2 linked regions of the Homo sapiens genome follow. The protein of the gene in region 2 purifies or fractionates together with the protein of the main gene of each other region. This does not show direct contact. Each region holds a gene or a part of one and is shown on either strand. Other genes may lie near its edges.

Region 1 (3,500 bases), on a different chromosome or scaffold from region 2:
CTCAGTGATGCCTGTCCTTGCGCCCACATGAGAATTAATCATCCGTTCTCTATGCCTGGCACTATTTCTATGGCTGTACCTATTACTATGCAGGGTGCTGTCTGTCTCATTTCTCTGACTATATGCTAAGAGCCTCAAAGGCAAGGCCCAAATGCCATTCATATTTTTCTCCTAAGGTCACTTAAAAAAGCCAAGGCTAGACTATAAAGAACAACAGATACCAAAGTCTGCATTTTACTTTTAGGAACAAGCGGTGTGCTGTAATGAAAGAGATGACTTGAAGGAGATTATCTGGTGGTATTTTTTTCCAGGGATTAACGTGGACAGCTTGGGAGCAAGACATTAGGCCACACTGATACTGTTCTTACTATGTGCTAGGAACTGTTCTGCCTGCTTTATATACATTAACACTTTCAATCCTCACAACAACCCAAAGAAATAGGTACTCTTCCATAAATGAGAAAACTGAGACAGAGAGAGGTTAAGTAACTTGCTCAAGGTCACACAGCTAGTGAATGGTGGAGCCGGAATGAGCCCAGTAATCTCCCTTGTGTTCTCATTCTTTTTTTTTTTTTTTTTTTTTCTGAGACAGAGTCTTGCTCTGTTACCCAGGCTGGAGTGCAGTCAGTGGTACAATCTCAGCTTACTGCAACCCCCACCTCCTGGATTCAAGAAACTCTCCTGCCTCAGCCTCCCAAGTAGCTTGGATTACAGGCACGCACCACCACACCTGTCTAATTTTTGTATTATTAGTAGAGACGGGGTTTTGCCATGTTGGCCAGGTTGGTTGCAAACCCCTGACCTCAAGAGATCCACCTGCCTCAGCCTCCCGAAGTGCTGGGATTACAGATGTGAGCCACTGCGCCCAGCCAGAGTCCTCATTCTCTCATTCTTAACTGTAGGAGTGTACAGCCTCCCACAGGACTAAAGTAGATGACAGCTACTGGGGCCTTGCACAGAAGTGTGTGCAGTAGCAGGAAGCTGGGGGCAGAGGGAGCGATGTGGATGGTGGTTCCACTACTGCAAAAGAAGAAAGCCAGGTGGGGGAGCCAACCTAAGGAGGAACACTTTGGTTGAAGAAACACCATATTTATAGTTGACGTTTTCTTACTTTTATGAGGCTGCCTGTGTGCAATTCAGGTAAATAGAGCCCATTTGTTCTGGGAGAACAAATCAAACTTAGCCCTTTAAACTCAGGAGCATACAACTGGGATTTTCTAGATTCTGAAAGAAAAAAGAAAAGTCTAAAAATCAGAAAGAATCCAGTCTAAATAGCTCTTCTTTTCAATAAATTTGGACATTGAGATTTTTTTCTTCTTTTTATGTAAAAGACCAAAGAACATAAATAATTCCATTTAGCCAAAGATAGCTCTGGTGCCCCAGAAAGAGGACAGAGAAGTAGGACTGGAAAGGCTGAGCCCATCACACACACCCGCCCTCTGCTCACTCAGGGTTGGCTGCCTGTGAGTGGGCTGCTGAGGAAATGCGAGGCCTCTCTGGTACTCACTTTTTGCATCTATGAGCCGCTCCCGGGGTGCGGTGTCAGAGGAGGAGAGCTGCTCCTTGACTTTGGCAATATCTTTAGGATGCAGGTAGTCAAACAAACTCTGACCAATCAGATCATTCTGGGGAGATGAAATGTTAAACATGACAAGTCAATTGCATGCAGAAAATCAATTATGCAACAAGTAAGCATGCACAGTCTGCATGTTGCCTTTGTGTTTTTGTGCATGAGACCTCAAACTTTTCCTATGTGAACCTGTACATATGTCCAACCACTTTGCCTGACACCAGGAAGGAGGCATCTGGAGGTTGGTTTTGATAACATGACGGGAAAACCCTCAATTATATAAACAGTTTATGCTCTTCTAAGGCAACAATCTTGGAATTCCCCTGTAAGACCTCAGAAGGCAGAAGATAGGGGTGGGCTCTGATTCCAGCTCTGCTGTTCAGCCTCTCTGTTCTCAAGCAAGTCACGCATATCATATGCTTCAGTCACCTTGTCTATTAACAGAGATAACAGCAACTTCCTCCATAACTTTGCTCTGAGACTAAAAAGAGCAGAAATCTTTGGAAAAATTAAATTTACATTAATTCTAATTTACATAAATGTCATTTTGATTCTTCAAGTCTTCTGCCTACCAAGCTTCCATGCAAATACCAGTGTGTGAGTGAATGAATAAATGAATAAAAACTCTGGGGGACATAATAGGTGAAAAGTTCTGTTCTAGAAGCGTTTATAAATGTTACTCTTATTTGATCCTATAAGTTATCATTAATTTTTAGAGTAAACTGAGGTTCAATAGAGCTAAGAAGTGACACAGCACTGCAAACACAGTATGGAGTGGATTTCCAAGTGACGTATTCTCTGGTATTGTGTTAACCTGCCTACCTTTCTCCCTTGTCAGATAGCCTCTTACCCTCTGTCCTTGCCACATATTGTGGGATATTTATTTTGCAGCAATAGAAGAAAGCCATAATGCTATCGATCAGATCAGAGTCAGATCTTTCAATGGGGGGAATACGGAACATATTACAAGATTGTTCTAAGTCTAAATTAATTTATCTGTTAAGAAGTTAAGAATTTTCTGGAAGAAGTTCACATGTGACTTGTATACTATAATTATTCTGACAAAATTGAGTGACACTTCTGACTGCTGTGAGGCTGCCCACCATCAACAGGAGCATGAACAATACCTGGCTGTAGTTGAGGATCTTGAAGACAGACTCTGAGACAAAGAGTATCTTCCCTCGGTCACATCCTACGACAAACAAAAATCCATCTGCTGCCTAATCAGGAGAAATGGATAATCAATTTCTCATACTGTAGGAAACATAATTTGTAATCACCCTGATAACAAATAGAGGATGTGCTTTCTAAGCATCCAAAGCACAGGAACACTAACAGTTTCAGTGATATCCTGAGTGCAGGATGCTGAAAACAAACGTCTCTGAAGAACTGTAAGATTGTGTGTGTGTGTGTGTGTGTGTGTGTGTGTGTGTGTGTTTCTGCATATCATCTAATTATTATAGGAAGAAAGTCCAATTAAAGTAAGTTATATTTCAAAGCAGAATTCAGCTTGCACGTGTTCTTTTGAAGGTATCATGGTCCAGAGAATCATATTTCATTGCTCTAATAATAACAACTCTATGGAGAGTCAGAGAATCTGAGATTTGGAAGGACTCTTCAAGAATCCCCTCTCCAACATCTCAGCCATCATCTGCCTTCAACTTGAAAACCTCCACGTACAGGGAGCTCTCTAAAACAGTGGTTCTCAACATTCGGAGCAGTGTTTTTTGTTTTTGTTTTTATGCTGATGGTCTGGCATGGGGCTGATCACTGGGGTATTTTTAAACCCATCCCACTTCCACGTTAATGTGATTCTAATGTACATAGGGCTGAGAACTACTACTCTCAAATGTTATCCCTCCATCCAGGGCCGGACTATTTGCATTCAGAAAAGCAAAACTCCCCGCTTAGATTCTTCTTACCCCTTCTT
Region 2 (3,500 bases):
GTACTTTAATGGTAAAGAAATCTGTACACACTATCTTAGCCAAGTGATCAACCAACCAGAGCATCACCAAGAGTAAGACTAACTTATGAGTCTCCAAATGTGTTGCAATGGGAAGGATACAACATCAACAACATAGTATTCTGGTCAAGATGCTAATCCTGACCCTAATAATGGGGACACTACCAGAAAATCCAGAGTGTGAGACATTCTACAAAGCAACAGGCCTGACTCATTCAAAGATGTCAATGTCATAAAGAAAGAAGAAAGAAAAAAAGGAAAGAAAAGATAGGGGAGTGGTTATAAACTAAACCAGACTAAAGGACAGGACAACTAAATGCAATGCTCAATCTTCAGTTGGATTCTGGATCCAAAACAGACAAAAAGACAAACAGCTATAAAGGACATTATTGGGACAATGGGGGAAAATCTGAATATGGAGTGTAGCTAATGATAAGTATCAGTGTTAAATTTCTTAGGTATGATAATGATATTATAACTACATAGAAGAATGTCCTTGTTTTTAGGAAATCTGTACTGAAGCTACATGGGGTAAAATGTCAAGTGTTTGCAATTTACTTTCAAATAATTCAGAGAGAGAGTGTGTGTGTGTGTGTGTGTGTGTGTGTGTGTAAAGAGAGCGAGAGAGAGAAAGCATATATGGCAAAAAGATAGACATATGGGGTATTCATTTGCTTTTGTATAGATTTGAAATTTTTTGAACTACAAATGTGGTAATTAAAATGGGAAAAATTGTCTTGATTTTGCAAATTTCATCCTACTCCAAGGTAACTGGAATAACTCAGGCAGTGAGGAAATCACTGGCACCTGGCCCAAGAGTGGCTCGAAGCATTCCAGTGGCATTCACTGGGGCTACTTTCTGGGGCATAATGAGTTTGATTATTTTAATACCACCTTATATCTGAGTAGTACAATATTCTTAAAACAACTGGCCTGACAAAGTTGAAGTTGTTAGAAGTGTCAAAATGTCAACAGTACTGGAAATAATAGATGGTAAGATTATGGATAATGTTTTTCTTCTTCATGCTTTCCTACCTGTCCAAGCTTTTACAATGAGCACGTATTCATGAAATGAAACATAAACAAAAAGCAAACGTGATATTAAAAGAAAAAAAGAGGCACTAGGCCTCCAGTGTTTCCCAAACCTGTCTGATCATACAACAGAAACACTTGTTTTTTAAAAGAACCCACATTCCAGGCCCTGTCCAGACCCTTGAAAGAGTCTCCAGGAGGGAGATCTGGTGATCAATATTTTTAACAAATGCCTCAGGTGAGCCTTATGATGAGGCAGGCTTAGGAAACAATGCTGAGAGAGAGAAGAAAAATCCAAAGGGAAGGTTGGCCCGCCCTTCCCTGGACTGTCCTGGCCCTGGGCAGGGCAACTAATTCCTTTTAATCTAATCCCTTGGTTGGCGCTCTGTTCCTCTTTGAGCAACGGTCTATTTATAATTTGCCTTTTCAAGCAGCATGCCTACAGGGAGAAAATATGCCAATCTAAAGACAAGAGAGTTCTAGTTTTCCTAACAGCTGCATTTCTCACTATAAGTTAATAAATCAAAATTGATTGATTTGTCTTTGTGAGTCTGGATAATATAAATCTTCTCCTTGAGAGGGTTCTACTCTCAGGATGTTGACTTGACCAGAATCCCTCAGCATCACCCCTCTGCATCCCCGCGCCAAAAATCACACTAGCGCCATATTCAAGCCACTACCCTCAGAGCGGGAAATAAAAAAAGAGCCCCAGCACAAAATTGAATGATTCAATATATATGCAGCTAGCCCTTTTGGGTAAGGTTTAAGAAAAACTTGTAAGGAAAACTGTTCTATTTTCTTATCTCTAATAGATACTCAAGTTTAGAGCTAGGCCAGGTGGCTCACAGTCCAAATACAAAATGCATAGAGACTGGGGGGAGGGGTTGTTGGAGGCGTACATTTCTAAACACAGCGAAACTACTTTCTCAATGAAAAAGTTACCTTACAAATTATATACAGTATTACTTTTATTTAACTGGCAGTCTTCCAATTTGTTACATGGAAACTACATGCAGTAGCAATTTTTCCCCTACAATGTAATAATTCCTGTGAAAAAGGAAGTAAAACAACAGAATTATGAGTATTTAAATATTTTTTCCAGTGACCAATTGCAATAGTTGGAAGTGTAAGATTCAGAGTCTAAGTTGAAAAAAGATGTTAAATAATTCTTTCAGAACTAACCCTGTGGTGACTTTGATGGGTACCCTGACATATGGCATCAGAATTACCATTTTAAAGCAGGTAAGTATTTATCCTGTGTGTGAAAGCATCCCATCCTTATCACATAAATGAGTTTTGGGGAGGAAATTTTTCACGCAAAGCATTCACTCACAAAACAGAGGAAGGATAAGATATTTTTAACCTGAAAAGCCAGAGTCCTTGTCTGACTCAGCAGCAGCCATCCCAAGCTGACGAGCCACTTTCTTCATCTCTGTGCCTTTGCCTACTTTGGCAGAGAGTCTTCTGGGGCTCTCTCTGGATGGGTTTTTCCTCTCCATGGTTTATTCAGCTGGAGGCAGATTCATTGGTACTCTTTTCATCTGGACTGCCCTATGAAAAACAATTATATAAGAAGTCACTGCCTGGAGAGCTGAAACAGGTGATCCAAACAGTGAATAAAGTATGGGCAAAGAACACTGGCCTCACCCACTTCAGCTTTATTTTCTCAGAGGTTTCAACTGACAAAAGCTTCAAGTTTACTAAACAGAATGGTTTCCACCCATAAGGAGATTCACAGTCCTCTGGCTGCCCTCTAATTCCATTACAAATTCAAGGCACACAAACCACATTCAGCATTCGCTTTGTAAACTGCTAACAAAGGCACATTTGATTAGGCTTTTTCCAATGGGTAACGAAATGAACTCACCAGAGGGGAGAGGGGACAGGGGAGTGAAGAGAAGGGAAAAGGAAGACAGGAGAAGAGAGAGGGCAGAAGGAGGGGGAGAGGGGAAAGGGGAGAGGAGAAAAGAGACACCGCAAGGCTTGCTTTCCTCGTGTACATTTGCAGGCTCATGACCTATTGCCACCTCCCACAGTGTTGTGTTTCTCAAATTAACCTCTAAATCCTTTGGCTGAGGTATTGAACAGAGAGCAAAAACAACTCCCTATACATGCATGCTACTTTTAGGCTTAAAAAACACTTTTATGGGCAAATAAAATCATATATAATAAAGAGCTTATAATATGCGTTGCTATTAGTGTTATCTCACTTGAGCCTCACAATGTCATCTTCAGTTGCTATCTCACTTTACAGGGGAGGAAACTGAGGCTCAGATAAGTTACATTCAATCATTTAAAAATATTTATCAAATGCCATTGTAAATCAGGCATTGTGCAAGGACTGGGGATATAGAATGAACAGAATAGGCATCTGTCGCTTCCTTCTTGTAGCTTATGATCTAGAGAGAGACAGTCATTAATCAAGTAATCACTCAACTAGCGACCATTTT

What was found. The genes of interacting proteins can lie anywhere in the genome.
Region 1: the proteins of CIPC (region 2) and BMAL1 purify together in Homo sapiens (affinity purification with mass spectrometry; one large-scale study listed by BioGRID and IntAct). This does not show direct contact.

What each region holds. Positions count from the first base shown.
Region 1 is NC_000011.10:13,364,790-13,368,289, reverse strand, and holds part of BMAL1 (basic helix-loop-helix ARNT-like protein 1), read right to left. Parts: intron 2,791-3,500; coding exon 2,698-2,790; intron 1,626-2,697; coding exon 1,508-1,625; intron 1,225-1,507; coding exon of another isoform or gene 1,112-1,224; intron 1-1,111. UniProt on the Homo sapiens protein: Transcriptional activator which forms a core component of the circadian clock.
Region 2 is NC_000014.9:77,104,758-77,108,257, reverse strand, and holds part of CIPC (CLOCK-interacting pacemaker), read right to left. Parts: intron 2,602-3,500; 5' UTR 2,550-2,601; coding exon 2,414-2,549; intron 1-2,413.